Homo sapiens: one gene and its partners. The protein of the gene in region 1 purifies or fractionates together with the protein of each later gene. This does not show direct contact. Each region holds a gene or a part of one and is shown in the gene's direction. Other genes may lie near its edges. The genes, in order: MAPK6, NEURL4, ECH1 and SLC27A4.

Region 1 (7,145 bases):
GCCTCCCGGGTTCAAGCAATTCTCCTGCCTCAGCCTCCTGAGTAGCTGGGATTACAGGCATGCACCACCAGGCCCGGCTAATTTTTGTATTTTTAGTAGAGATGGGGTTTCACCATGTTGGTCAGGCTGGTCTCAAACTCCTAACCTCATGTGATCTACCCGCCTCAGCTTCCCAAAGTGCTGGGATTACAGGTATGAGCCACCGCACCCAGCCTACACCTGACTAATTTTTGTATTTTTAGTAGAGACGGGGTTTCACCATGTTGGTCAGGCTGGTCCTGAACTACTGACCTCAGGTGATCCACCTGCCTCGGCCTCCCAGAGTACTGGGATTACAGGCCTGAGCCACCGCATCTGGCCAAGCACTGAAATTTTTATAGCCACAGAATGGGATTTTTTTTTTTTTTTTGAGAGGGAGTCTCGCTCTGTCACCCAGACTGGAGTGCAGTGGCATGATCTCGGCTCACTGCAGCCTCCGCCTCCCGGGTTCAAGCAATTCTCCTGCCTCAACCTCCTAAGTAGCTGGGTGGCGCACGCCACCACGCCCGGCTAATTTTTTTTGTATTTTTTAGTAGAGATGGGGTTTTACCCTGTTGGTCAGGTGATCCGCCCACCTTAGCCTCCCAAAGTGCTGGGATTACAGGCGTGAGTCCGCGCCCAGCCCAGAATGGCATTAAGAACTGAAACCGGGCTGGGCGTGGTGGCTCACACCTGTAATCCCAGCACTTTGGGAGGCTGAGGTGGGCAGATCACTTGAGGTCAGGAGTTCAAGACCAGCCTGGCCAACATGGTGAAACCCCCTCTCTACTAAAAATGCAAAAATTAGTTGGGCGTGGTGGCGCGCCCTGTAATCCCAGCTACTGGAAGGCTGAGACAGGAGAATACCTTGAACCTGGGAGGCAGAGCTTGCAGTGAGCTGAGATCCTGCCACTGCACTCCAGCCTGGGCCACAGAGCCAAACTCCATCGCGCGCGCGCGCGCGCGCACACACACACACACACACACACACACACACACACACAAACTAAAACTGGCCGGGCATGGTGGCTCACTCCTGTAATCCCAGCACTTTGGGAGGCCAAGGCGGGTGGTCAGGAGTTTGAGACCAGCCTGCCCAACATGGTGAAACCCCGTCTCTACTAAAAATACTAAAATTAGCTGGGCATGTGGTGCACACCTGTAATCCCAGCTACTCAGGAGGCTGACACAGGAGAATTGCTTGAACCCGGGAGGCGGAGGTTGCAGTGAGCCTAGATCGTGCCACTACACTCCAGCCTGGATGACAAGAGCAAAACTCCATCTCAAAAAAAGAAAAAAAAAACACCAAAAAAACTAAAACCAACTACATTGACATGACTTTACAATTCAACTATCTGCAATAAATATAACTTGAATTCCAAGAAACTCTTGCCTAAAAAGGTGGAGTTGCAAATAACTTGATTGTGGTTTCAGGAACTTCCTAAAATCCATTTATCTCATTAAGTTACTCACAGAATTTGCCTTCATCAGGGTAAACAGCCCTCTGTTCTACTGAGTTTAACAACTATTTATCCCTTTAGGCTCTCTTCAAAACTCTCCCCCTCCTCTGCCCACCCACCTTAAACTATTATAACACAAATTTGTCCCAAACCCAATCAGGACCCCTCACTGAAAAACCAGTCTTAAACCAGATCCCTGGGCCAGGTGTGGTGGCTCATGCCTGTAATCCCAGCACTTTCGGAGGGCAAGGCTGGTGGATCACCAGGTCAGGAGATCGAGACCATCCTGGTCAACATGGTAAAACCTCGTCTCTACTAAAAATACAAAAATCAGCTGGGTGTGCTGGCGCGCACCTGTAGTCCCAGCTACTCGGGAGGCTGAGGCGGGGGAATCGCTTGAGCAGAGGTTGCAGTGAGCAGAGGTTGCAGTGAGCCAAGATTGCACCACTCTGCACTCCAGCCTGGCGACAGACCGAGGCTCTGTCTCAAAAACAAACAAACAAACAAACAAACAAAAACCAGATCCCCCAAATCTTGTAATTATTCCATCCTTGACCTCCCCTTTGTCTCACGTGTCCGTGTGAAGAGACCACCAAACAGGCTTTGTGTGAAAAACAAGGCTGTTTATTTCACCTGGGTGCAGGCGGGCTGAGTCTGAAAAAGGAGTCAGCAAAGGGTGGTGGATTATCATTAGTTCTTACAGGTTTTGGGATAGGCAGTGGAGTTAAGAGCAATGGTTTGGGGGCAGGGGGTGGATCTCACAAAGTACATTCTCAAGGGTGGGGAGAGTTACAAGGAATCTTCTTAAGGATGGGGGAGATTATAAAGAACCTTCTTAAGGGTGGGGGAGATTACAAAGTACACTGATCAGTTAGGTTGGGGCAGAAATAAATCACAATGATGGAATGTCATCAGTTAAGGCTATTTTCATTTTTTTTGTGGATCTTCAGTTGCTTCAGGTCATCTGGATGTATATGTGCAGGTCACTGGGGATACGATGGCTTAGCTTGGGCTCAGAGGCCTGACACCCTTTTGAAATGCTACAAAGATTCTGTCAATTTAGTGGTCTCCCTTACTATTGTAAGCCAACTTTGCATTATCCACAGGAAGTCAGCAGTGACACTGGATTAAATGCTCCTTGAGGGAAGGCACAGTGCTTGGTATTTATTCTCCCACCTTCTCTGGGTGATCAGACATTGATGGAAAAGGAAGGTAAACGAGTTCTCAAAGAGTGAGAGGAAAAATGTCCTGAGGATCAGAGGAGAGCCTAGAGCAGAGGCAGTGGGGCTGAAGGTACGAGCTCTCGTTGCAGAAGCTGGAAATTCTGCGGTTGGAACAAGTCTCCCCTTTCTCTTGGTTTTTTTCACTCATTACCTCTTCTTCACACCTGGTACTCAGCTGACGTTGTTTTAAATATTAAAAAATATAAAGCATTCAAGCTCACCCCAACCACTTAACTTCATTACTCTGTGATTTTTTTTTTTGAGACAGAGTTTCGCCCTTTCGCCCAGGCTGGAGTGTCCTGGCGCGATCTCGGCTCACTGCAACCCCCCGCGGGGTTCAAGCTATTCTCCTGCCTCAGCCTCCCGAGTAGCTGGGATTACAGGTGTGAGCCACCACACCCGGCTACTTTTTGTATTTTTAGTGGAGACGGGGCTTTCACCATGTTGGCCATGCTGGTCTCGAACTCCTGGCCTCAGGTGATCTGCCCGTCTCGGCCTCCCAAAGTGCTAGGATTACAGGCGTGAACCACCACGCCTGGCCCTTTGTGATCTTTTTGAAGTGGTCTTTGCCTCTTTCTTGAAGATGCCCATAATAATGACTAGAAGGGCTATTCTATGTCTGGTTCTCAGCAAGATGGTGATGAAGTCATTGAAAAAATATGCTGACCTGCGTCTCTAATTTCATAAATACTTAAATTTCACATAAACACTGAAAAGGCTCCTTGGACTCAATAAGCCATGATAAGTAATGTAAGTTTGCTTTTAGCCAAGTGGGCCCAAGAAGGCACCCATCCACCTTTCTACGTTTCATAGTGCATCCCTTCCCAAATTCAAATTGTCCTATCCCAGTTCCTGCAACAAGCCAGGTACTCTGGCCTCCCAGTCTTTGCTCACAGAAACACCCTCCCCACCTCCTGGTTATATCCGCTCCTCCGGGATCCAGCTGAAAGGCCACCTTGGCGACCACTCCTGAAAGCCTTCCTCCATACTCTGGCAGAATGAATGACCTTAGTATTGGCCTCTAACGCGTCTGTCTTGTGCTCGGGCTGTCGCCTTCCAGCCAATCCATCTTAAGGTCCACCCTTCCTGGAGACTGAGGCCTCTTCCTCTCGGATTGCCCAGTGCCTTGCACGTAGTAGGTGCTTAGTAAACGCTGGCACTGGGTTTGGTCACTTTGTTCCCTTAATGCCAGGGCAGGTAGTAGAGCAAACGGCCCCAGCTGTCTTCCTCCCTGCCCGCCCGCAGGCAAAGCCCCCAGGAGACGCCGGACGAGCCGCGTGCCTTTCCCACCGCCTCCGCGGCGCGCGCAGCCCAGTCACGGGCGCTGGAAATTCCGGCGCGTGCGGGTGCGCTGGGCAGGGCGGGGGCGGGAGAACCCGTGGAGTGAGCCTGTGACGTGAGGGGGCGTGGCACCGCGAAGCCCCGCCCCCTCTTCCTCGCCCTCTCTCGCGGGTCGGGGTTACATGGCGGCGACTGCGGCAAAGCGAGAGCCTCGGAGACGCCGCTGCCGCCAGCACAGCCGGAGACCTGAGCCGACACTGGGGGCAGTCCGCGAGCCCCGCACTCTCTCGATGAGTCGGAGAAGTCCCGTGAGTGTGTGTGTGTACGTGTGCGGGGTGCGCCGGCGGGGCGGCTCGGGAGGGCGCCGCGGCGGGCCCGGCGGCGGCGGCGGCGGCGGCGACGGCGGAGCCGGCTCCCTCCTCCATTGTGTGTGACCCTCCGGCGGCTGCCGCTCAACAAAGGCGTTTTTGTTCGGTCTGCCGCCCGCCCCCTGCTCGCCCGCCTGCCCGCCCGCTCGGGCCTGGCCGGCGCGTCCCCGCGCGGGCGGGCGGGCGGCGGGCTGGGGTCCCCGCGTGGGGCCGGCCAGGCGGCCAGCGCGCCCCTCCCACCCGGCACGCCCCTCGCCGGTCGCCCTGCCAGGCCGCGCCCGCTCCCTGGCCCCGCACGCCTGCTGCCGTCCCGCCGCCTGCGCCTGGCTCCGCGGGTTCGAAACCCAGCCGGACCGGACCGGAGGGCGGGCGAGCGAGGGGCGGCGGCCCGGGGAACATGAGGTGGCGTGGAGTCTCGCCTTACTGGCACGCTGCCTTTCGAAATGCTCCCGCGTCTCCTCCCCCATCCCACCCGGTGACTCGGCCTCAGCTGACTCCGGCCGGGCAAAGTCTCCAGTGGCGTAGCGCGCAGCGCTCACCCGGCTCGTCTCAGAGCCCTGAAGTCCGCCCAAGTTTTGAGTCTTGCCATGAATGAGGTACTGAAAACTCGGAGACGAAATTCCTAATTTCCTCCCTCGGCCCTACAGTCTTTCCTTAGCTTCTTTCGGGACCTTAAGTGGTGGTCTGTAAAAGTGCCCAAATGAAAGCTTGTTTTGTCGGTTCACCAAAAAGGGCCTTGTCACTTTGCTGTGCATTTTAGTCCGCCTTGTGAGTTGTGTCGAAAAGTAAAGGTGTTTTGGCATCCTTTTGTTTCTTGGCGAGTGTAGGACCCAACCGGTTTAGGTGTTAGGGGGATCTCTGTGCAGCGGGAGCTTCTTGATTCCTTTCCTGTTTTATTTTTTCTTTTGCTTGTTCATTGGAAAAGGTCCAGTGAAAGGGACTGGTGAGTTGGAATTAGAAGCCTACTTGTATTAACGGCAGAATTCGTGTTCATTGCTAAAGATGCAGTCTCAGTAATGACTTTTTTTTTTTTAACGGATACAGATGATTTGTCAAGGGGAAAAATTAACACGCCATACAATGAAGAGCAAGCAGCTTCAGAGTAATTTTCTGATGGCTGATTCTTCTAGCCTGTCTCTTACAGTTCCAATTGCACATGTCCTCCCTCTTTAACGCTGGAAAACTGAGATGGAAAGAATGATCTGACCAGAAGAATGTAGGGTCCAAACAGGGCCTGGCCCTGAAATCAGGAATTTCTTCATAGAAATATCAGATTTTAATGTTTAAAAAATAATTTTGAATTGGGTGAAAGGAACTTTGTCTTTAGATAGTAGTTGTTCAAACATGTTTATGAAGTGTTTGCTATGTGCCAGGGATTGTAAAGTCATTTCACATATGTTACATCATTTATTAAGAATTGCCTTAAGCTTGTAAAATTATTCATTGATGTCCTGAATTCAGTAATTGCAGTTAATCTAGAAAATATGCCAGATTTGAGCAGAACATATTTGATCACCTAGGTATTACTGTTGAGAAGAAAACACTGGAAAATGGAGACTATTTTAGAAAAAACTTCGTATATGAGGATATTCTGGAATTCATTTATTTGCAAAAGAGGATTAGAAGTAGTCGTTGGCTACTTTCTGTTATTAAAAAATCCAGAGAAGAGTGATTTGAAGTCAGTTAATTTTGTAATAAAAAAATGCACACATTCTAAAGACTAATGTTAGCACTAAAAGTGTTGCAGTGCTTTACATAAATTCATTTAAAGCATCGTGAGAATCATAACTGACAAAATAGTAAGGTTTGCTGACTCAGGGTACTTTGCTGAAGGGGATGGGGGTCGGGTAGGAGGAAGCTTACAAGTGCTGCTGCAAGTTTTGAGTTGGATGATGACTCATGCTGCCCACGGACTGCTACGTGGCTTTTTTTTTTTTTTTTTTTAAATACACTGTATTTTTTTCTAAATGATAGGCTAAAATGTTCCTGTCCACATTGAAATTCTCTCTCATTTTTTCTGAAGAGGAACAGCAGTTTCTCTAAAAAAGTAATGGCTTCTTAAATTGCATTTTAAAAGGATATCATATACCCTACAGGTGGAATTGTGTAACATTTGCTGAGAGGAAAGGTAAAACCAATTTCTGGTCAGGTGCTGAAATTAAATGTTTGATACTAGCAGTTTTTTGGCTACTGCTGAGAGAGATTTGTTACAGGTTGTTTATAAAGGACAGATAGTACTTTTATGGTGTCGGTAGAAATTGACCTTATGTTTTTATTGGTTATGTGAAAGTTATCTTTATATTTAATATTTAATCAGATATGGCTCTGAATATGAAAGTTTCACTCAGAATTATTAAAACATAATTATATATTGTGCTTTGTGATTTATGTGAATTTTCTGTTTTAATAAAGACAATTTGAAATAGGTATTAGTCACTATTTTTCATGGTTTTTTTTTAAAGATAAGCTGAATGTACAGTTCTAAGTTGAAACTTGGTAATAAGATAAATCTTTTGACTGATTTTAAAACAGCCAACGTTTAGCAAGGTGGCTTAAAATAAGATTGAGAGGGGGAAAAAGATTGAGAATGGCAGTTTAAGAGTGGGGCTGGGTGCGTTGGCTCACACCTGTAATCCCGGCACTTTGGGAGCCTGAGGTGGAAGGATCGCTTGAGGCCAGGAGTTCAAGACCAGTCTGGGCAACATAACGAGACCCTGTCTCAATTTTTAAAATAAAAGAAAAAAAATTTCCCACCCCATCCTCTGGTTTTTCTGTGTATACTGTTTATTTTTCCA
Region 2 (7,171 bases), on another chromosome or scaffold:
AGGCACAAACTGTTTCAGTATAATAAAGAAATAGTTAGAATAAGAATAGTCATAATACAAATTAGATATAGAGATGATCATGGACAATTATCAATCATTATTATAGACATTATTAATCATTAGCTTTTAATATTACTGTTTGTTGCATTACTAATATAACCTAGGAATAACCGGCGGGTATAGGGTCAGGTGCTGAAGGGACATTGTGAGAAGTGACCTAGAAGGCAAGAGGTGAACCTTCTGTCACGCTCGCATAAGGGCCGCTTGAGGGCTCCTTGGTCAAGCGGTAACGCTAGTGCCTGGGAAGACACCCGTTACTTAGCAGATCGCGAAAGGGAGTCTCCTTTCCTTGGAGGAGTCAGGGAACACTCTGCTCCACCAGCTTCTTGTGGAAGGCTGGATATTATCCAGGCCTCCCCGCAGTCATCCGGAGGCCTAAACCCCTCCCTGTGGTGCTGTGCTTCAATGCTCACGCTCCTTGTCCACTTTCATGTTCCTCCCGTACTCCTGGTTCCTCTTTGAAATTCGTAGTAGAGAGCAGTAGAAGAAATAGTGAAAGTCTTAATGTCTTTGATCTTTCTTATCAGTGCATAGAAGAAAACGCTGACGTATGCTGCCTTCTCTCTCTACTTCGGCTACCTAAAAGGGAAGGGCCCCCTGTCCTGTGATCACGTGACTTGCTGCACCTTGTCAATCACTTAGAAGATTCACCCTCCTTACCCTGCCCCCTTGTCTTGTATGCAATAAATATCAGCGCAACCAGTGGTTCAGGGCCACTACCGGTCTCCGCGTCTTGGTAGTCATCCCCCAGGCCCAGCTGCTTTCTCTTTATCTCTTTGTCTTGTGTCTTAATTTATTACAATCTCTCGTCTCTGCACACGGTGGGGAACACCCGCTAAGCCCCATAGGGCTGGACCCTACATCATGTATCTTGGAAAAGTTGTCTGCAGGCCCTGAGCTCCTGTCAGCACAGTCCTGGCGGAACCTGGGGCAGATACTGTCCATCATGGCAATCCTGAAGGGGCAGGAGACTAGTTGGGGGCATCAAGAGAAGAAAATAGCAATGGGGACAGGTGGTAAACGAGGCCAAATTGGCGGACCCCTGCCCCCATCCAGGCCTGATGGAAATTGTAGCACCTCCCACTGCAGGTGTCAGAAAGCAGACCCGCTGCAGACCTGAATTCAGGGCTGAGGGAAGGAAGAGGCCCCATAACCCGGCTGATCTCTGGCAGGACTCTTACCTCTCTGCCAGCACTCCAGGATTCACTGAGCAGGAGGAGCCGGCAGAGAGGTCCTCAAAACTGTCCTGCAGCCTGCAGAGGAGGGGGAAGCAGTGCCGGGAGGTGGGTGTCAGGCAGTATCCAGTCCCTGAGGCGCTCTGCCTCCTCCACCTGTCCCCTCCTTTAAATAGAGAAGAATCTCTGGACTGAAGGGTTGGGGCTGAGGGCTCAGCACCTGTGGTAGGGAGTGTTGGGCTCATCCACCATCATAAATCCATAGTCCTTGTCAGCAGGGCGGTAGGTGGCCAGGATATTCATCTCGTCCCAGTGCTGAGACTTCCTTCTGGGGCTGGGGGAGGAGACCTTCTAATGACCCCCCCATAGGCCTCCCTCATTTTCCCAGTCATTCAAAACAGGTTTTTTTTGTTTTTGTTTTTGTTTTTTGCTTTTGTTTTTGTTTTGAGATGGAATCTTGGCTCTGTTGACCAAGCTGGAGTGCAGTGGCACGATCACAGCTCACGGCAACCTCTGCCTCCCGGGTTCAAGTGATTCTCCTGCCTCAGCCTCCTGAGTAGCTGGGATTACAGGCGTGCGCCACCACACCTGGCTAATTTTTGTATTTTTAGTAGAGATGGGGTTTCACCATGTTGGTCAGGCTGGTCTTGAACTCCTGACCTCGTGATCTGCCTGCCTCGCACTCCCAAAGTGCTGGGATTACAGGCATGAGCTACCCTGCGTGGCATTCAAAACAGTTTTTGTTGTTGTTTGTTTGTTTTTTGAGATGGAGTCTTGCTCTGTTTTCCAGACTGGAGTGCAATGGTGTGATCTCAGCTCATTGCAACCTCTGCCTCCCCGGTTCAAGCCATTCTCCTGCCTTAGCCTCCCAAGTAGCTGGGATTACAGGTGCCTGCCACCACACCCGGCTTATTTTTGTATTTTTAGTAGGGACAGGGTTTCACCATGTTGGCCGGGCTGGTCTCGAACTCCTGACCTCAGGTGATCTGCCCACCTCGGCCTCCCAAAGTGCTAGGATTACAGGCATGAGTCACCACTCCGACTCAAAACAGGTTTCTTATACCTTGTTGAGGCTGGGGATGGGGTCAGACTTAATGATAATCACAGTCCTGTGCAGCCACGGTTTATGGGGCACCTGCTCTTCTCCCGAAAGCCTGGAACCTCGGACTTCCCACTCAATTGCCCTCACCTACTCTAACTCTTCATTCTTAAGGCTCTGCCCCTTTCCTTCTGGCTCCCACCCTCAGGTGTCCTGAACCCTCCCGACTCTGGGCTGGCTGCCCGCAGAGCTGGGCTCCTTACTTCTCCACATTGGGGGATTTCTGCATCAAGTTGGAGCTGTTCTTTCGTAGGATGCTCCGGGGCCGGTCCTGTTGGGAGTTTTGGGGGTTCAAGCAAGTTGGCCCAGAGTGCGGACTGCACCCGGGGCTGTTTACCTCTTGCCCTGCAGGTCCCCCAGGCCCGGGGCTGGAAGCCCTGGATACACTGGTTCGAGGCCCGGGGATGTTGAATCCACCAGGGTTCCTGCCAGACCCAAGGCTGTGGTTCGCAGCCTCCCTTGGGTGCTGACTGGGCCCGGAACCAAGGACCACTATCCCCCCGGAGGGACAGCTTGAACCAGTACTATGAGTTACGGAGCCCCCTGAGTGCACGTGGGGCCCAGAACCGTGAAACAAGACTACTCTGGAGGGCTGCCCAGCGCCTGCCTCGACTCCTGTGACCGCTGCGGGCACTCCTCTGGCTGCCCCTCCAGGGGAATCCCGGTTGAGGCCGCCAGCAGCCCCTAGGGACTCCACCTTCTCCATGGCCCCACTGGGGGGCTGCTCTCAGCGATCCTGACCCGCCTCCCGGCTCCACGTAGCCCCGCCCCTGGCCCCGCCCCCACCGCTGCCGGCCGGGGATGCTCGGGCTCAGTCCCGGGTCCACTTCTCCCCTGCTCCAGAGCTGCGGCGGGCGGAATCAAGACTATATAGAGACTCGGGCTGGGGGTCCCTCCGCTCGCCCCTTTCCTTTGTGTCCCACCCAAAGATTTTCTTTGTCTGGGCAATTTGTTCCCGCCCTTCTCCATCACCACCCTCATCCAAACCAGCCAATCCCAGTCAGGGGGCCAGGCCAGGAGCTTCGACTGTGACCTCACGGTCCTCCAGCCTGAGCTTGAGCTTCGGGGAGTTGGGCAGGGGGCTTGTTAATAGCTCTAAGGGAGATCTTTTGGGGTCATCAACGCTGTCGCTTGAAACGGCCTGTCGGGACTTCTTTAGACTCTTTGTGGTCTTAACATGGAATAGTTTGGTTGAGTTGGAGTTGAAGCTGGGCTTGACTTGAACTATCAGCGAGCTTCCCCCACCCCCGCCAGTCGGCTAGCTCAGCCAATCAGAAGAGGTGTGAGGCAAAGTGGAAGGACTGCCGCACTGTTGCAAGACACTTCGTCCTCAGTCGGGTGGCGGGAAGAGACTTTCACTACCGCTTCTCTGGGTCCTCCAGACTCGGCTCACGCTGCTTTGGAGCCTGCATCCCGAGGGGAGACACCCCCTCTTGCCGTAAAGCGAGTGCTTCAAGGTGTCACCGCCCCCTAGCGAGGGCGGGGTCGTCGGTGCCGCTGTCGCAAAGCAGAAAGTGTTTGGGCTCCAGCACCCCACCGTCGTAAAGATGCCTGCGGTGGGCGTGTCTTTCTCCCACTGTCGCAAAAGCTCCCTGCCCAGGTCTTCGTCCCCCTCGGAGCCGCTCCGTCACCTCGCTATGCCGTAAAGCGAGGCTCCCGACCCCGTGTCCTTCTGTTCTCATCGTGGTCGTCCCCAGCTCCTAGCGCGGGCTGCTTCATTGCCCGGCAGTGCCGTAAAGCATACCTGGCCTCAGCCCCCCGGTCGTATCCCTCGGACTGTCTGCCCGACGCGGTTGCCACGGTGCCGCCAAGCGCGGCTGTCGCGCTGCCCCGGTGTCAGCGGAGATGGCGGCAGGGTCGGGTGGGAGTGGGGGCTCTGGGGGAGGCCCTGGACCGGGGCCGGGCGGGGGTGGGGGCCCCAGCGGGAGCGGCTCAGGACCGGGGTCCAACGGGGGTCTGGGCAGCGGCGGGGAACTGCACCCGCGCACTGGGCGCTTGGTGAGCCTGTCGGCCTGTGGGCGTACGGCGCGGCGGCAGCAGCCGGGCCAGGAGTTTAACCACGGGCTGGTGTTGAGCCGAGAACCCTTGCGCGATGGACGCGTCTTCACCGTCCGCATCGACCGCAAGGTGCAGCGCTGGTACCGCGGAACAGAGATGTGGAGGGTGGTGGGAGGCGTCTAGAGGGAGACGGGGTAGGACAGCCAGGGTAGCCCACATTGCCGGGCACCGAGAGGGAACAGAAAGACCATAGAGCACCAGGGGGCGGTCAGGAAGACAGCATGAAGCAGAAACATTGAGTTTGAAGATGACATTAAGAGCTTGAGTTTTCTCAAGATCCAGAACCAGGGAAGGGACACGAGGGCTAACCCACTAGAATGGCTGGGAACAGACCTCCTGGTACAATTTCTTGGGCATGGAGGATGGAGAGATGTCAGAGATGTGATGGCAAGTGAAGAAAGATGCCAAGGAACGAACAAACGTAATCCCAGCACTTTGGGAGTCCGAGGCGGGCGGATCACTAGAGTCAGGGGTTTGAGACCAGCCTGGTGAACGTGGTGAAACCCCGTCTTTACTAAAAATACAAAAATTGGCCAGGCATGGTGGCGTGCGCCTGTAATCCCAGCTACTCTGGAGGCTGAGGCAGGAGAATGGCTTGAACCCGGGAGGCAGAGGTTGCAGTGAGCTGAGATCATGCCATTGCACTCCAGCCTGGGCAATAGAGTGAGTGAGACTCCGTCTCAAAAAAACAGAACAAACCATTGAAGGACAGAGGCTGTGCCAGAAAGATAGGTGAGGAGAAAGATCCAGGGTGAGGGAGGTGTGTGTGATTCAGTGAAGAGGCCAGGCTCACAGAAAAAGAACTTGGAAGGAGATTGAATCTGGGTAGAGCCTGATCTTTGGAGAGAATTAGGCCAGGGGAAAGGAATGAATGATACACAAGAGCAAGAGGTGTGGGTATAGGAAGTAGGAGAATTTGGATGGTTGGAGAGCCATAGAGACAAGGAAAGTTAGAGGAGGCAGGAGGTTGGAACCAAGGAATTTGTGCTTGGCTTGGAAAGGAGTGGTTTAGTAAACACTGAGTAGAGAGCAGAGTTGCTAAAGGAAAGCCCAAATAATTACCAAGACGGAGTCCAGAAAATCACTGTCTGCATCTCTGGATTAGTGTTCCAAGAGACAGAAAGCCAGCTAGCTGTCTGAGAGGTGGGAAGATATGGTGGCCTGTGGAATGGGGGGTGGCCCATTCTAAGCCTCTGTCCAATACCCCTATCCCAGGTCAACTCCTGGAGCGGCTCCATTGAGATTGGGGTGACAGCGCTGGACCCCAGTGTGCTGGACTTTCCAAGCAGTGCCACGGGCCTGAAGGGGGGCTCGTGGGTAGTGTCGGGCTGCTCTGTGCTGAGAGATGGACGCTCTGTGTTGGAGGAGTATGGTCAGGACCTGGACCAGCTTGGTGAAGGGGACCGCGTGGGCGTGGAGCGCACAGTTGCTGGGGAGCTTCGGCTCTGGGTGAATGGGCGGGATTGCGGTGTGGCTGCCACAGGCCTGCCCCCTCGTGTCTGGGCCGTCGTGGACCTTTATGGCAAGTGCACCCAGATCACCGTGCTACCCCCTGAGCCAGGCTTCAGCCCCCCTACTCCCATCCCCACACCTCCCCTCGAGCCCTTGGCCCCCACTGAAGACTCTGCCTTGGCTGAACAGGGGACCTCTGCAGATGAAGGTGAGAACACAGCTAGGGCAGTGGTGGTGGGGTGGGGACGGAATGGGGGAAATAGAGTGACAAGACAGGCTGGGTGTGGGCAGGGCCACCCTGATCCCCAAGTCTGTTGAATGGGAGAGCAGGAGCTAGAGGATGGGGGGTTCTCCTGGCTATGGGCCGTGAAGCAGGGACTGAACCCTTATTCCCCTCCCATCCCACCTGGTCCCCAGCCTTCATGGTGTCCCCAGCGCAGGCCCGGCCGGAGACGTTTCCTAACAGCCTTGAGTCGCATAATGGTGAGGGCTTTGGGGAGGCCCTGGGAAGGGGAGTGGGAAGTGAGGTGGACAAGGGAGGGCCCTCAGGAGAAGGGGTAGGGAGAGAGGCACCAGGTCTGGGGGTGTAGAGCCTCATCCCAACTTCCGAGCTTCCTTCTTCCATCCTGCTGCTATAGACTTTGCCAACATGGAGCTGTCTGAGGTGGTGAGCAACACCATCCTGTCTGCCTACAATGGAGGGCTCCTGAATGTGAACCTGAGCTCCCCACCGGCAGGGGAAGGCCTGGGATCTAGCGGTGCTGCCACCTCGCCCATTCTCACTTCCAACGATGCCCTGCTCTTTCATGAAAAGTGCGGGACCCTCATCAAACTCAGCAACAATAATAAGACGGCTGAGCGCCGGCGGCCCCTGGATGAATTCAACAATGGGGTTGTCATGACCAATCGCCCCCTTCGGGACAATGAGATGTTTGAGGTGTGCAAAGTCCTGTGGTCTGGTTGGCGCCTTATCCCTGGGAGCTAAAGATGGGGATTGACCCTTGGTGCTAGGAGGGTGGGCCCTGGGGAAGAACCAAGGGCTGAAGGTCCCTTTCTGCATTTACATTCCCTGCTTCTCCCTTCTGTCCCTCAATGCCAGATCCGTATCGACAAGCTTGTTGATAAGTGGTCAGGCTCCATTGAGATTGGGGTCACCACCCACAACCCCAACAGTTTGGAGTACCCAGCCACCATGACCAACCTCCAGTCAGGTACCAGCCCCGGGCAGGGGCGGGGGTGCAGGCCTGGTGTTGCTGAGGGGAAGGAAGCCCCGTACCCGAACCCAAGTGTCCACTATCACCCAGGCACCATCATGATGAGCGGCTGT
Region 3 (7,969 bases), on another chromosome or scaffold:
CTCCACTGCTCAGCACGCCTCCTAATTAGGTGCCTAGGAAGAGTCCCATCTGAGCAGGAAGACATTTCTCTTTCCTTTATGCCATTTTTTGTTTTTGTTATTTGCAAAAGATCTTGTATTCCTTTTTTTTTTTTTTTTTTTTTTTTTTAAATGCTAGGTTTGTAGAGGCTTACTTAACCTTAATGGAAACGCTGGAAATCTGCAGGGGGAGGGAGAGGGGAACTGTTATCTCCCAAGATTAACCTTCACTTTTAAAAAATTATTGTACATGTGATTTTTTTTTTTCCTGTTCATACATTTGTGCTGCCCATGTACTCTTGGCACATTTCAATAAAATTGTTTGGAAAATAAACACAGCACTTGCTGGGATTCCAGGATGTCTGCTTTTCTCCCTCTCTGTCCTGAAGACACAGGCAGGCCTGAGCACAGTCACAGGCCCTCTGGAGGCATACAGAGACCCAAGAGGAGCAGGGTGGGCTGCAGACTGAGAATGGTGCTAGCAATTGAGTCTTTGAGGAAAATCCATCAGGCTTAGTGGCATTCTTACTGGGCCCTGCCCGAGCAAGCTCTATCAGGCCCAGTGGGTCATCACACCTATAATTCCAGCAATCTGGGGAGGCCAAGGTGGGGCACATACTTTGAGCTCAGGAGTTGAAGACCAGCCTGGGCAGCATGGTGAAACGTCACTACAAAAAGGTGGGTTTGGTGGAACACCTGTAGTCCCAGCTACTCGGGAGGCTGAGGCAGGTGGGTCAGTTGAGCCTAGGAGGTTAACAGTGCAGTGATCACATCACTGCACTCCAACCTGGGTGACAATGAGACCCTATCTCAAAAAAAAAAAGGTTTCCAGCCTTGCCATCATGGTGAAACCCTGTCTCTACTAAAAATACAAAAATCAGCCGGGCATAGTGGCGCATGCCAGTAGTCCCAGCTACCTAGCAGGCTGAGGTGGATCACCCCAACCCTGGAGGGTGATGCTGCAGTGAACTGTGATGGGGTCATTGCACCCCAGCCTGGGCAACAGGGTGTCAAAAAAACCCAAAACCTTTGTGTTCTGTATCATTTCAGAGTGACTTGTCTTTACCCTTGCAGTATCATTGTGTGGATGTGTCATGATTTAACCTGGTCCCAAAGGGTAGTTTCCAGGTCTATTTTTGCTATTGCAAACAGCGCTGTAACACGTATCTACACAAGTATCTTGGCCAGCTTCCCTGATACTGATCAGGAGATAAATTCCTGCCAGTGGAATTGCTGGGTTAAAGGATATATATAGCTGGATGTAGTGGCCCATGCCTGTAATCCCAGCACTTTGGGAAGCCAAGGCAGGCAGATCACTTAAGGCCGGGAGTTTTGAGACCTGGGCAACATGGCAAAACCCTGTCTACAAAAAATAAGAAAGTGGGCCGGGCATGGTGGCTCACGCCTGTAATCCCAGCACTTTGGGAGGCCGAGGTGAGCGGAACACTTACGGTCAGGAGTTCGAGACCAGCCTGGCCAACATGGTGAAACCCTGTCTCTACTAAAAAAATAAAAATTAGCCGGGCATGGTGGCACGTTCCTGTAGTCACAGCTACTCAGGAGGCTGAGGCAGGAGAATCGCTGGAACCCAGGAGGCAGAGGTTGCAGTGAGCCGAGATTGTGCCATTGCACTCCAGCCTGAGTGACGAGAGTGAAACTCCGTCTCGAGAAAAAAATATATAGAAAAATGATGTGGGCATGGTGGCACACACTGTGCCTATAGTCCCAGCTACTCATGGGGGCTGAAGCAGGAGGATCACTTGAGCTGTGAGCTGTGATGGCACCACTATACTCCATCCTGGGCGAAAGGGCGAGACCATGTCTCAAAACTTAAAGGATCTATATAATTGCATCATACGGTAGATAGCTTCCCACTTGCAGATGCAAATCTGTGAAGATGCCTTGCGGTGGCGGGTACCACCCGGAAGGATCCTGGTTTAAGGATTTTGACTCCTACTGGAGGGAAGAGGTGACCTGCAGAGGAGCAGGTCACAAACCTTGAAGTTTATGCATGTGTGCTTGAGAATAGCCCACTCTGGGGAATTTACTGTGAATAAAATTTTCTTTTTTGAGATGGAGTCTTGCTCTGTCACCCAGGCTGGAGTGCAATGGCATAATCTTGGCTCACTGCAACCTCTGCCTCCTGGTTCAAGCAATTCTCCTGCCTCAGCCTCCCAAGTAGCTGGGATTACAGGCATGTGCCACCATGCCTGGCTGATTTTTGTATTTTTAGTAGAGATGGGGTTTCACCATATTGGCTAGGCTGGTCTCGAACTCCTGAGATCCACTGGCCTCGGCCTCCCAAAGTAGCTATGATACAGGCATGAGCCACTGCGCCCGGCCTTACATTTTTAACATTTAATGACATCACAAAAGCATCATTTGGCAGATGAACAAGTTTTGCTTCACTATGGGAAGTTTCAAACAATCTTTAGACAAGGAAAAACTACAGTCATCTTGCAGCCATAAATAAAATCAACTAGGGTTTATTGTTTTTAAGCCAGTCAAGGTGATAAAAAGTGAATTTTACCAGTTTGTCTCCTAGCATCCAATTTCATTTCCTGTTACCAGTTTGAGTCTCCTTCCAGAGATATTACATACATACACCATATTCTGTGCAGGTCCAGCTACACTCTTTTTTTTGAGACATTGTCTCACTCTGTCACCCAGGCTGAAGTGCTGGAGTGCAGTGGCATGAGGTCAGCTCACTGCAAACTCTGCCTCCTGGGTTGAAGCAATTCTCCTGCCTCAGCCTCCCAAGTAGCTGGGATTACAGGCACCTGCCACCACGCCCCGCTAATTTTTTTTTTTTTTTAGACAGAGTCTTGCTCTGTGGCCCAGGCTGGAGTGCAGTGGCGTGATCTCACATCAGTGCAAGCTCCGCCTCCTGGGTTCACGCCATTCTCCTGCCTCAGCCTCCCGAATAGCTGGGACTACAGGCGCCCGCCACCACGCCCGGCTAATTTTTGGTATTTTTAGTAGAGATGGGGTTTCACCGTGTTAGCCAGGATGGTCTCGATCTTCTCACCTTGTGATCCACCCGCCTTGGCCTCCCAAAGTGCTGGGATTAGAGGCATGAGCCAACACGCCTGGCTAATTTTTATATTTTTAATAGAGATTGGGTTTCACCATGTTGGCCATGCTGGTCTCAAACTCCTGACCTGAGGTGATCTGCCTGCCTGGGCCTCCTAAAGTGCTGGGATTACAGACCTGAGCCACCGCACCCAGCCCAGCTATACTTTCTTACACCAAAGGAACAAAGGATCATACTAAATGTTCTATTACATCTTCACATTTTTTTCTCACACATTTTTATTTTTGCATAGAGGTTTCAGAGTTTTCTATGGTATAAACAGTCTACTGTTGATGGGTAGTTAATGGTTCTGTCTTTCAAAAGAGCCTGCTTTTCTAGTCTGTGAAAACACACAGGAGACAGGTTCATTAAGGAAAGATACTTCCTTCAATCTCACTGGCCCAGAGACATCTGTTCACCGCCTTGCTCAATGTCTCCCCAAAAAGCATACTTAAGCAGTTTTACAGTACTTTTTTTTTTTATTTTTTTGAGATGGAGTTTCGCTCTGTCCCCAGGCTGGAGTGCAGTGGCGCCATCTCGGCTCCCTGCGAGCTCCGCCTCCGGGGTTCACGCCATTCTCCAGCCTCAGCCTCCCCAGTAGCTGGGGCTACAGACGCCCGCCACCATGCCCGCTAAGTTTTTGTATTTTTTTAGTAGGGACGGGGTTTCACTGTGTTAGCTAGGTCAGGAGGTCGATCTCCTGACCTCGTGATCTGCCCGCCACGGCCTCCCAAAGTGCTGGGATTACAGGCGTGAGCCACCGCGCCCGGCCAGCAGTTTTACAGTACTTTTTATGCCTTTTGGTAGCTGGCTTTTCCCAAGGGAATTTCGGTTTTTTTGTTTTGTTTGTTTTTTTTAAGAACATGAACTTTTTTTTCTTCTTTTTTTTTTTTTTGAGATCTTGCTCTGTCGCCCAGGCTGGGGTACAGTGGTGCCATCTCTGCTCATTGCAACCTCCGCCTCCTGGGCTCAAGCCATTCTCTTCCCGCTAGGATTACAGGTGCCGGACACCGCACCCGGCTAATTTTTGTATTTTTAGTAGAGACGGGGTTTCGCCATGTTGACCAGGCTGCTGTTGAACTCCTGACCTCAGGTGATCCGCCTGCCTCGGCCTCCCAAAGTGCTTGTATTACAGGCGTGAGCCACTGCGCCAGGCTAAGAACATGAACTCTGGTGCCAGGTAATCCTGCTTTAGCCCTTCTGAAGCCCACCGACCTTGAACCTAGTGTCTTCCCGTGCCTGGGCCAGTTTCCTCTGCATATAGTAGGAAATAGTACGACCTCCTGGTGGGAGTTCATATTATACAGTCAGCGCTTAATGTTGGCCCGTCTGTACTCATTCCTTTACCTGAGTAAACTCACAGTACTGCAAGTTTTCTTTTATTTTTAGTTAACATGATATATACATGCATGATTACAAGCTCTGCTGCAATTATGTCCTTGGACATTTCAGCTGTCGCCTATTATTCCACCATTATGAAACAGCTGTGTGATGAACTTTAGCGGGAGCTGTTTGCTTTTCTGTTTTTTTTTTTGTTTGTTTGTTTTGTTTTTTTTAAGACGGAGTGTCGCTCGGTCGCCAGGCTGGAGAGCAATGGCGCGATCTCGGCTCACTGCAAACTCCGCCTCCCAGGTTCACGCCATTGCAGGAGCTATTTTCTTTGGCCAGGTTCCCACTGGGGCAAAGGGTCCATTTCTGAGCCTGGCTCTATGTAAGGCAACCGGAAATCGACTGCCCTTAGTAAAGATGGCGGAAAGAACGGCGTCATTGCCTGTCAGGTTGCGGCATCGGTGCCCTCGCTCAACATGGCGGCCTTCTGTGCCCGCCCCCTCCGCTAACGGGCACGTTACTCCGTCCGAACGCAGTAGACGAAGGCGGCGGCGATGGCGGCGGGGATAGTGGCTTCTCGCAGACTCCGCGACCTACTGACCCGGCGTGAGTCACCTCTTGCCTTATGGGGGTGCGTCGCGCTGTCGTGCTGTTATAGCAGATGTAGGACGGGGAGGGCTATCCGGGGTCACGAAGGGCCCGAGTCCCCTAAATTCAGGGGTGCGTGTGCTCCCTTTTGAAGGACTCCCTAATTCGATAGGCCTGTGTCTTGCAGTCTGGGGTCATCAAAGGCTGTTCCTTTCTCCCCAGGACTGACAGGCTCCAACTACCCGGGACTCAGTATTAGCCTTCGCCTCACTGGCTCCTCTGCACAAGAGGAGGCTTCCGGAGTAGCCCTCGGTGAAGCCCCAGACCACAGCTATGAGTCCCTTCGTGTGACGTCTGCGCAGAAACATGTTCTGCATGTCCAGCTCAACCGGCCCAACAAGAGGAATGCCATGAACAAGGTCTTCTGGAGGTCTGACCTGCAGATCCTGGAGGCCTGCCTGCGGGGGGAGGCGGGGCTGCGGGACTGGGTGAAAGTGGAACGTTGTGGGAAGATGGACATGAGGGCAGGGTATTCCCGCCCCATTTGTAACCCTTCACTCGTTGCTTCACAGAGAGATGGTAGAGTGCTTCAACAAGATTTCGAGAGACGCTGACTGTCGGGCGGTGGTGATCTCTGGTGCAGGAAAAATGTTCACTGCAGGTACCAGACGCTCTTCACACACCCTGCCAGCCTTCCTAGCTCCTGGCAATAGACAGTGGAGCAGTGCTTCTGAATTAGGGTTTTAAGCAGCTTCTGACTTACACACTTTTTTTTTTTTTTTTTGAGACGGGGTCTTGCTCTGTTGCCACGCTGGAGTGCAGTAGCGCAATCTCAGCTCACTGCAACCTCCACCTCCCGGGTTCAAGCAATTCTTCTGTCTGGGACTACAGGCGTGGGCCACCACACCCAGCTAATTTTTGTATTTTTAGTAGAGACGGGGTTTCACCATATTGGCCAGGATGGTCTCCATCTCCTGACGTTATGATCTGCCTGCCTCAGCCTCCCAAAGTGCTGGGATTATAGGCCTGAACCATTGCTCCTGGCCCCTAACTCACACTTTTATCTGTGTGTTTTTTTTTTTTTTTTTGGAGACAATATCTTTCTCTGTCACCCAGGCTGGAGTACAGTTGCCTAATCATAAATCACTGTAACCTCAAATACCTGAGGTCAAGCGATTCTCCCACCTCAGCCTGCCAAAATGCTGGGATTACAGGCAGGTGCCACCATGGCCAGCCCTATCATTTTTTTAAAAAAAGGCCTACTTTAAAACATTCAAATATAAGTATTAGTCTGACAGAACACGATGGGATCATAGGCTCTGAAGTCTAGGTTTCCATCCTGGATCTGTGGCCATGAACAACATGCTTAACCTCTCAGCCTATAGCTGTGTCAGCATATAATATAATAACATGCTTTCGTGCAACTATTCAACTCACTAATTGATTTCCAGTTACAGGTCAGTTGGATCTTTGGATTGACCCACTGACCTTTTCTTCAGATTGGAGAATTTCCACTGGTCACAGTTACTAACTGTTTAGTCATCTCTATCCTTCTGTAAAGCCCATCCAGTGATTTATTTTGTTTTATTTTGTTTCAGACGGAGTTTTGCTTTTGTTGCAATGGTGCAATCTCAACTCACTGCAACCTCTGCTTCCTGGGTTCAAGTGATTCTCCTGCCACAGCCACCCAAGTAGCTGGGGTTACAAGTGCCCGCCACCACGCCCGGCTAATTTTTTGTGTTTCTAGTAGAGACGGAGTTTTACCATGTTGGCCAGGCTGGTCTTAAACTCCTGACCTCAGGTCATCCACCCACCTAGGGCCTCCCAAAGTGCTAGGATGATAGGCGTGAGCCACCGTGCCCAGCTACTACCCACTGATTTTAAATTTCAGATATTGTAGTTTTCTTTCTTTTTTTTTTTTTTCTGAGACAGAGTCGCTCTGTCACCCAGGCTGGAGTGCAGTGGTGCGATCTCGGCTCGCTGCAAGCTCTGCCTCCCGGGTTCAGGCCATTCTTCTGCCTCAGCCTCCCGAGTACTGGGACCACCAGTGCCTGCCACCACACCCAGCTAAGTTTTTGTGTTTTTAGTAGAAACGGGGTTTCACCGTGTTAGCCAGGATGGTCTCGATCTCCTGACCTCGTGATCTGCCCGCCTCGGCCTCCAAAAGTGCTGAGATTACAGGCGTGAGCTACCACGCCCAGCCCAGATATTGTAGTTTTCAATTCTCCAATTTCCATTTGGTTCATATTTTATTTTATTTTATTTATTCATTTATTTTGAGACAGAGTCTCGCTTTGTCACCCAGGCTGGAGTATAGTGATGCAATTTTGGCTCATTGCAACATCTGCCTCCTGGGTTGAAGCAATTCTCCTGCCTCAGCCTCCTGCATAGCTGGGATTACAGATGCCCGCCACCAGGCCTAGCTAATTTTTTTTTTTTTTTTTTTTTTTTTTGGAGAAGGAGTCTCACTCTGTTGACCAGGCTGGAGTACAGTGGTGCAGTCTGGGCTCACTGCAACCTCCACCTCCCAGATTCAAGCCATTCTCCTGCCTGAGCCTCCTGAGTACTTGTGATTACAGGCACCCGGCACCACGCCTGGCTAATTTTTATATTTTTAGTAGAGACGGGGTCTCACCATTTTGGCCAGGCGGGTCTTGAACTCCTGGCCTCCAGTGATCGGCCCCCCTCGGCCTCCCAAAGTGCTGGGATTACAGGCGTGAGCCACTGTGCCTGGTCAGTTGTATATTTTTTGTCATGCATGTTTTTCTTCCTGCCATTGAGCATAGTTATAATGACTGATTTAAAATCCTTGTCTTCTGGCCAGGTGTGGTGGCTCACGCCTGTAATCCCAGCACTTTGGGAGGTCGAGGCAGGCGGATCACGAGGTCAGGAGATCGAGACCATCCTGGCTAACATGGTGAAACCCCATCTCTACTAAAAATAAAAAAAAAGAATATTAGC
Region 4 (7,855 bases), on another chromosome or scaffold:
CCTATCTATAATCAGTTTCTAACTGTACTATATGTCAGGCAGTACTAAGCACTTGAGATGCATTATCGCACTGACACCTCAAGGTCACCACCCAAGGAGGGAGATGGTATTTTGCTTGTGTTTTACTAACGAGGCAGTAGGAATAGAGCTGGGGTTGGAACCACGGGTTGTCTGAAGACCTGCTCAGCACTGCCATACCAGGGCCCCAGCCTTCCCTGTGCGCACCACGTCTGGTTCAGGGATCCCAATAGCAGAGGAAGGGCAGGGGAGGCTGGAGGCCCACCTCAGAACCATGGACTTTTCAGGAGGGAAACCTTGTTCTGAGCTCCTTGAATCTGCGGGAAAAGGAGGCCATGCTAGTGAGTCCCCATACCTCACCAGTCTCTGCAGACCTGCCAGCTGTTTCTGCAGCTTCCCAGGGTCCCAGGCACCCCCACTGCAGCTCACTAAAGTCAACAGTGCCAGGGTGGCAGCGGAGGTCAGACAGATGGCCTTCACTGCCCAGCTGAGCAGCTCACCTGCTCTAGGCAGGCAGTGCCTGGACAACCCTGGGCCTTTGTAGCACTTGTGAGATGGACACAAAGCATCAGGCTTAGCTGGGAATGGAGTCTGGTCTCCTGAGTATAGGGTGGCATTTGTGTTACCAGCTCATGATTGGAGAAAAATCAAACTGGCTATAGGTAATCACTGGTGAGGCCCTACCAACTTCTGCCTAGAAACGTCTATTCTCCCATCTCAGTAAACCATGCTTGCCTTCATCCTGCTCCCTGAACACACCAGGCTTCTTCCTGCCTTTGGGAACAGCACCGTGTCCCCAGGTTGTTACATGGTGAGCTCCTTGTCATTCACATCTCTGCTCAAATGTCACAGCAGAGATGTCTTCCTGGGCTTCCTGCCATCTAAAGCAGTCCCTAGTCCCCCTCTGCCTCTCTCCATGCTATCATCTTCTGTTTATTATTATTTATTTTTTGAGATGGGGTCTCATTCTGTCACCCAGGCTGGAGTGCAGTGCCACTATGACGGCTCACTACAGCCTCGACCTCCTGGGCTCCAGGATCCTCTTGTTTTAGCTTCCCTAGTAGCTGGGCCTATGGATGCATGCCACCACGCCTAGCTAAGTTTTTTTTGTTTGTTTTGTTTTTTTTTGTTTTTTTGTTTTGAGATGGAGTCTCGCTCTGTCACCCAGGCTGGAGTGCAATGGCGTGATCTCAGCTTACTGCAACCTCCCTTTCCCAGGGTCAAGCAATTCTCCTGCCTCAGCCTCCCAAGTAGGTGGGATTACAGGGGTGCACCACCATGTCCAGCTAATTTTTATTTTTAGTAGAGACGGGGTTTCACCATGTTGACCAGGCTGGTCTCGAAATCCTGACCTCAGGTGATCTGCCCACTTTGGCATCCCAAAGTGCTAGGATTACATGCCTGAGCCACCGTGCCCAGTCAAGTGGTTTCTTTTTTTTTTTTTTTTTTTTGGCGGGGGGAGTGGATGGAGTCTCACTCTGTCGCCCAGGCTGGAGTGCAATGGCGTGATCTCGGCTCACTGCAACCTCCCACCTACTGGGTTCAGGCGATTCTCCTGCCTCAGCCTCCCGAGTAGCTGGGATTACAGGTGCCTGCCACCACGCCCGGCTGATTTTTTTTTTAATTGTTAGTAGAGATGTGGTTTCACCATGTTGGTCAGGCTGGTCTCAAACTCCTGATCTTGTGATCCCCCCGCCTCAGCCTCCCAAAGTGCTGGGATTACAGGTGTGGGCCACCGGGCCCGGCTTTTTTTTTTTTTTTTTCTTTTGTAGAGACAGGGTCTTGCTATGTTGGCTCGGCTGGTCTTGAACTCCTGGCCTCAAGCCATCTTCCTGCCTTGACCTCCCAAAGTGCTGGTATTCCAGATATGAGCCACTGCACTATGCCCTTATTTTCTTTAGAGCATTCACCACTCTGAAATTATTTTGTTGGTAGAGCTTGGCGGGGGGTGGCTCATGCCTGGAGTCCCAGCACTTTGGGAGGCCTGGGGGGGCAGATGACTTGAGCTCAAGAGTTCCAGACTAGCCTGAACAACATGATGAAACCTCGTCTCTACTAAAAATACAAAAAATTAGCCAGGTGTGGTGGCGCACACCTGTAGCCCTAGCTACCCAGGAGGCTGAGGTAGCAGGAGCACCTGAGCCCAGGAGGTGAAGGCTGCAGTCAGCTGTGATTGTCTGGGCAACAGGAGTGAGACCCCATCTCAAAAAAAAAAAATTAAAAAATTTTAATGACAATACTGTGATGAGCGTGACACCAGCACAGTGAGCACTGAGTGAGGGATGACCTATTCCATCTCACTTCCACCTGTCCTCTGTGCGGCCAGCTAGACTGTAAGCAACTGAAAGGCAGGCTGTCCTGTTCTGTGTTGTCTTGCTTCTCCCCCTCAGGCCTGATCCAATGTCCGGTGGTACTGCTTTGGTTTCTCCAGTGTGACGAGCCTGACTGAAGGAGAGCAGGTGGCTGGTCACCAGCATCCTCCCGCTAACTCTCACCTGCCCACTTGCATATGACCTCAGTAGTTGATGTGGAAGTACTCATGATTATACTCACGAATCCTGGTGTGCATAAGGTCAGAGCCTCCAATTCACTCTCCCTTTCATTCATTCAAGAAATGTTGTGCCAGGCGCAGTGGCTCATGCCTGTAATCCCAACACTTTGGGAGGCTGAGGCGGGTGGATCACGAGGTCAGGAGATCGAGACCATCCTGGCTGACACGGTGAAACCCTGTCTCTACTAAAAAAAATACAAAAAAATTAGCTGGGCCTGGTGGCGGGCGCCTGTAGTCCCAGCTACTCGGGAGGCTGAGGCAGGAGAATGGCGTGAACCTGGGAGGCGGAGCTTGCAGTGAGCCGAGATCGCGCCACTGCACTCCAGCCTGGGCGACAGAGCAAGACTCCGTCTCGGAAAAAAAAAAAAAATACTCCCCACAAATCTCCACGCTGACCCTGTGAGGTATTATTAATTAGTATGTCCCATTTTTTATATGTAAGAACAAAATGAATCTTGACCTTTCAGCTGAGAAGGCGAACTCAATGCTCATGCCCATACCACTGCACATTCTGCCTCCTGATGGTGATACCCATGAAGGATGTGGTGCTGGAATTTACTCAAGTCCCCAAAAGGAGGCACCCTATATTCCAGAAGAAATAGGTCCAAATCCTTATCAGACCAAAATTTCATCTTTATTTTTATTATTATTAGTTTTCTGAGACAGGCTCTCACTGCTCTGTTGCTCAGGCTGGAGTGCAGTGGCCCAATCTCGGCTCACTGCAACCTTTGCCTCCCGGGTTCAGTGATTCTCTTGCCTCAGCTCCTGAGTAGCTAGGATTACAGACGTGCACCACCACGCTCGGCTAAGTTTTGTATTTTTAATAGAGACAGGGTTTCGCCCTGTTGGCCAGACTGGTCTCGAACTCCTGACGTCATGTGATCTGCCCACCTCAACCTCCCAAAGTGCTGGGATTACAGGCATGAGCCACTGTGCCCAGCTTATTTTTATTTTTTGAGACACGGTCTTACTTTGTTGCCCAGGGTGGAGTTTAGTGGTGCAATCACAGCTCACTGCAGCCCCAAGTTCCAGAGCTCAAGCAATCCTCCCACCTCATCTTCCTGAGTAGCTGGGAGTACAAGCAAGAGCTACCTGGCTAATTTTTTTTTTTTTCCTGTAGAGGCAGAGTCTCACTATGTTGCCCAGGCTGGTCTTGAACTCCTGGCTGAAGTGATCCTCCTGCCTCAGCCTCCAAAAGTGCTGGGATTACAAGCTTGAGCCACCACGCCAGTCCCAGAATCTTTTTTTTTTTTTTTTTTTTTTTTTTTTTTGAGATGGAGACTTGCTCTGTCGCCCAGGCTGGAGTGCAGTGGCGCAACCTCGGCTTACTGCGACTTCCGCCTCCCAGGTTCAAGCAATTCTCCTGCCTCAGCCTCCCAGGGATCTATTAATGTTTAAGGACAAGTGGCAACTGTGGATGCCCAACATGGTTACTTAACAAGAAACCAATTTTTCAGAGGCCAAGAGTCCCAACAGGGCCGAGAATCTGGCCACTCGCCTATGGCTCTGGAGGTGGCATGACAAATAAGGGTGGCATGACAAATATAGGTTAACTGATTTGTTGCAGGGACCAGAGATCATAGATGGTGAAGTTAACTAAGGGCCTCCAAATCCGTGTCCTTTGTGCCAACAGGTGTGCCAGGCTGCTCACAAGACACCATGGTACGAGAAAGGATTTCTCGTAGTCACCTAGACACCAGGTTTATGGCTGTGTCGCAGCAAAGTTGGGTGTGACTTATGATTTTCGTTCTGAACCTTATTTGTTAGATAGGTCCTGGAGTCCTTAAAACACGCAGGTGAAAGTCAGGGAGTAGGAGCCATCAAAATTCGACTCTGGTGGGACTCGAACCCACAACCTTTGAATGACCACACTAGGCTCAGCTAGAAGTCCAATGCGCTATCCATTGCGCCACAGAGCCGGCTGCGGAACCCGGCCGCCCCGCTCACCTCTGCCTGAAACCGCCCTCTTAGCGAGCTTCTAGGTGTGGTGCTGGGTGTTTGCTGAACTCGGCCGGGGCCCGAGAGCGTGCTCCGGGTTTTCGGCTGTGGTGTGGACTGGGGTGCTCTTCCTACATCCGGGCGCTGGGGACAGCAGGGGGCAAGGGCCGGGGTCGGCAGGGAGGAAGGGCCGGGGTGAAGCCCGCCTGTCTCCTCGCGGACTCGGGGGTCTCCTCGGCTGGGTGGGGCCGCGCGGCGTGGACTACAACTCCCAGCGTGCCGCGCGGCGGCGCCGCCCGAAGCCGTTGCGCGAGCAGGGCGGGCTGGGGCCGAGCGGCGTCAGGCGCGCTGGGGCTGCGCTGCGCCGCCGGCTCTGTGGCTTGCCGGCTTCGGGGAAGGTGCGGCAGGCGGTGCTGCGGCCTGGCACAGCAGGTTTGGGGTGCGGGAGGCGGGCGGGGTAGGAGCGCGGCGGGCGGGGCCGGGCGGCGGGCGGGGCTGGCGGGGCGGCCGGGCCATGCAGGGCGCAGAGCCGGCTAAACCCTGCTGAGACCCGGCTCCGTGCGTCCAGGGGCGGCTAATGCCCCTCACGCTGTCTACGCTGCTGCAACCGGGCCGCATCTGGACGGGGCGCCGCGCGGCGGAGCCGACGCCGGGTGAGCATAGACCGGGCTGGTGGGTTCCCGGGTGGGGACATGTGCCAGGCCGAGTCGGGCGAGGTGGCGGTGCGGACCCCAGGTGGGGGGCGCGCCCTGCGGCGCTATTTCCCCGACAGACGCACTGTTACCTTGCTGTCTAGGGGCGAGGGCGGCACGCGTGACCCGGGACAGGGGCCCGAGGGAACTAGTCACCCTCTTCTGGCCTCTTCTTGCCCCAGCCTTCCAGGACAGGTTCCTGCCCCTCTGCTATGGCGGGCTATGGGAGGCCAGAGATCTGAGGACCCTGGACCCTGGCGTTGGGGTTGAGGACTCTGGTTCAGTTCCCCCGCCCCCGGCTTTTGCTTTTCGCGAGGGGGAGGGGGAGATGGTCTCCCAGGGCTTCTTGTGGTCCAGACCATTCCCTTTTCCTGGCTTGGAGGCTCTCAGGCCATTTCACATTTGTGACCTTCATCTACTCCCAAGAACAGGAAAACTCGGAGAAAAACAGTCCCATCAGATGTCCCCTTGATCGAGTCCTCAAAGCTCCAGGAATAGAACCCAAGAGTCCTAGCTCAACCCAGCCCCTGAAGCACAGTCAAGTCATTCGCCTTCCCCTAAGCCCTAGACCCCAAAGATTCATCCGAGTGGCTGTGTGTGTCTGTGTGATGGGTGGTGGTGTCTTCAAGGTCCTCCTCGCCTCCCTCAATCAGCTTTGCCCCCTGGGCGGTCACCTTTCAAGCACTTCCAGGCTCTAACTCGTTTTCTGGGTCGCCCTCTATAGACCAACAGACGCACTGCGATACCTGAGTCTATGGGCAGGGACCAAGCAGGGCTCCTTTTCCAGGGAGCTGCCCCTTTGACTTGGCCTGGTCATCCACAGAACCTCCCTGGGTTCTGGGTGGGGAGTCGAGCCAGAGACTTTTTTTTTCTTTTTTTGAGACGGAGTCTCGCTCTGTCTCCCAGGCTGGAGTGCAGTGGCACAATCTCGGCTCAATGGAACCTCCGCCTCCCGGGTTCAAGCAATTCTTCTGCCTCAGCCTCCTGAGTAGCTGGGGTTACAGGTGTGTGCCACCATGCCTGGCTAATTTTTGTATTTTTAGTAGAGACAGGGTTTCACCATCTTGGTCAGGGTGGTCTCGAACTCCTGACGTCATGATCCGCCTGCCTCGGCCTCCCAAAGTGCTGGGATTACAGGTGTGAGCCACCACTGCCAGCGAGCCAGAGGCTCTTAAGTCAGTACCCACCCCCAGGCCATCCGGTTTTAGGGACCCTGGATGTCAGAAGAGTGAACTGTCATGTTTTGGCTAGAAAAGCCTCTTAGAACACGTCTCAGGACAACTCGGTGGTGGCCACTGCGCAGACCAGACTTCGCTCGTTCTCGCATGCCTCGCTCCGCTTTTCCTCCGCAACCATGTCTGACAAACCCGATATGGCTGAGATTGAGAAATTCGATAAGTCGAAACTGAAGAAGACAGAGATGCAAGAGAAAAATCCACTGCCTTCCAAAGAAACGATTGAACAGGAGAAGCAAGCAAGCGAATCGTAATGAGGCGTGCACCGCCAATATGCATTGTACATTCCACAAGTATTGCCTTCTTATTTTACTTCTTTTAGCTGTTTAACTTTGTAAGATGCAAAGAGGTTGGATCAAGTTTAAATGACTATGCTGCCCCTTTCACATCAAAGAACTACTGACAACGAAGGCTGCGCCTGCCTCTCCCATCTGTCTATCTGGCTGGCAGGGAAGGAAAGAACTTGCTTGTTGGTGAAGGAAGAAGTGGGGTGGGACGACAGTGAAATCTAGAGTAAAACCAGGCTGGCCCAAGGTGTCCTGCAGGCTGTAATGCAGTTTAATCAGAGTGCCATTTTTTTTTTTGTTCAAATGATTTTAATTATTGGAATGCACAGTTTTTTTAATATGCAAATAAAAAGTTTAAAAACTTAAAAAAAAAAAGAACACGTCTCACTACACCCATTGCACAGAGGGCAGATACTAAGGTCTAAAATGTGAAAAGGTCTTGCCCAAGGTCACTTGGAGAATGGTGGGCAGAGATGGGACTATGAGACGAGAACCAGCCTCCTGCTTCTCACTCTTGGAATTCCTCACCTCAAGTGCCAAGCCCCTAGCCTGCCCCTTCCAGGCCAAGCCTGGAAAGGGACCCCTGTGGTCAGTCACCCAACTCAGTATGGCTAAGCCTTACCACAGGCTGTCCCCTTGGGATCACAGTGGCCTGGCTGTCTGGGCTGGGAGGTAGGAGACCTGGAGGGTTGGGTGTTTGGGTCCACTAACTGCCCTGTGTCCGCAGGCCACAATGCTGCTTGGAGCCTCTCTGGTGGGGGTGCTGCTGTTCTCCAAGCTGGTGCTGAAACTGCCCTGGACCCAGGTGGGATTCTCCCTGTTGTTCCTCTACTTGGGATCTGGCGGCTGGCGCTTCATCCGGGTCTTCATCAAGACCATCAGGCGCGATATCTTGTGAGTACCTGGCCCAGCCTTTCCTGGGGTCTGCCACACTACAGTGAGCTTCTGGTCCCCCAAATCTCCCCAGGCCAGACCTCATGTTCTCTACCAGCACAGGGCAGCTGAGCTGAGTTCCAGAACAGCAGCCTCTGCTCCACACCCGTACCCTGGCAATAGTACCTGGTCCCTCCATCTCCAAGGTCAAAGTCTTCTCCCAGGGAATCTCCCTAACTTGAGGCTCCCAGGCCTTGGGCA

Evidence for each region.
Region 2: the proteins of MAPK6 (region 1) and NEURL4 purify together in Homo sapiens (affinity purification with mass spectrometry; 7 studies listed by BioGRID and IntAct, with this or other methods). This does not show direct contact.
Region 3: the proteins of MAPK6 (region 1) and ECH1 purify together in Homo sapiens (affinity purification with mass spectrometry; 3 studies listed by BioGRID and IntAct, with this or other methods). This does not show direct contact.
Region 4: the proteins of MAPK6 (region 1) and SLC27A4 purify together in Homo sapiens (co-immunoprecipitation; 2 studies listed by BioGRID and IntAct, with this or other methods). This does not show direct contact.

Annotation. Positions count from the first base shown.
Region 1 is NC_000015.10:52,015,087-52,022,231, forward strand, and holds the start of MAPK6 (mitogen-activated protein kinase 6), read left to right. Parts: upstream 1-4,132; 5' UTR 4,133-4,290; exon of another isoform or gene 4,291-6,478; intron 6,479-7,145. UniProt on the Homo sapiens protein: Atypical MAPK protein. Phosphorylates microtubule-associated protein 2 (MAP2) and MAPKAPK5.
Region 2 is NC_000017.11:7,326,321-7,333,491, reverse strand, and holds the start of NEURL4 (neuralized-like protein 4), read left to right. Parts: upstream 1-4,156; 5' UTR 4,157-4,179; coding exon 4,180-4,461; intron 4,462-5,607; coding exon 5,608-6,052; intron 6,053-6,261; coding exon 6,262-6,327; intron 6,328-6,482; coding exon 6,483-6,781; intron 6,782-6,943; coding exon 6,944-7,055; intron 7,056-7,148; coding exon 7,149-7,171. UniProt on the Homo sapiens protein: Promotes CCP110 ubiquitination and proteasome-dependent degradation. By counteracting accumulation of CP110, maintains normal centriolar homeostasis and preventing formation of ectopic microtubular organizing centers.
Region 3 is NC_000019.10:38,828,778-38,836,746, reverse strand, and holds the start of ECH1 (delta(3,5)-Delta(2,4)-dienoyl-CoA isomerase, mitochondrial precursor), read left to right. Parts: upstream 1-4,952; 5' UTR 4,953-4,974; coding exon 4,975-5,026; exon of another isoform or gene 5,027-5,051; intron 5,052-5,230; coding exon 5,231-5,438; intron 5,439-5,580; coding exon 5,581-5,669; intron 5,670-7,969. Other genes in the region: HNRNPL (heterogeneous nuclear ribonucleoprotein L), read left to right, coding at 1-25. UniProt on the Homo sapiens protein: Isomerization of 3-trans,5-cis-dienoyl-CoA to 2-trans,4-trans-dienoyl-CoA.
Region 4 is NC_000009.12:128,335,679-128,343,533, forward strand, and holds the start of SLC27A4 (long-chain fatty acid transport protein 4), read left to right. Parts: upstream 1-4,848; 5' UTR 4,849-5,160; intron 5,161-6,478; exon of another isoform or gene 6,479-6,687; coding exon of another isoform or gene 6,688-6,714; exon of another isoform or gene 6,715-7,082; intron 7,083-7,448; coding exon of another isoform or gene 7,449-7,454; coding exon 7,455-7,615; intron 7,616-7,855. UniProt on the Homo sapiens protein: Mediates the levels of long-chain fatty acids (LCFA) in the cell by facilitating their transport across cell membranes. Appears to be the principal fatty acid transporter in small intestinal enterocytes.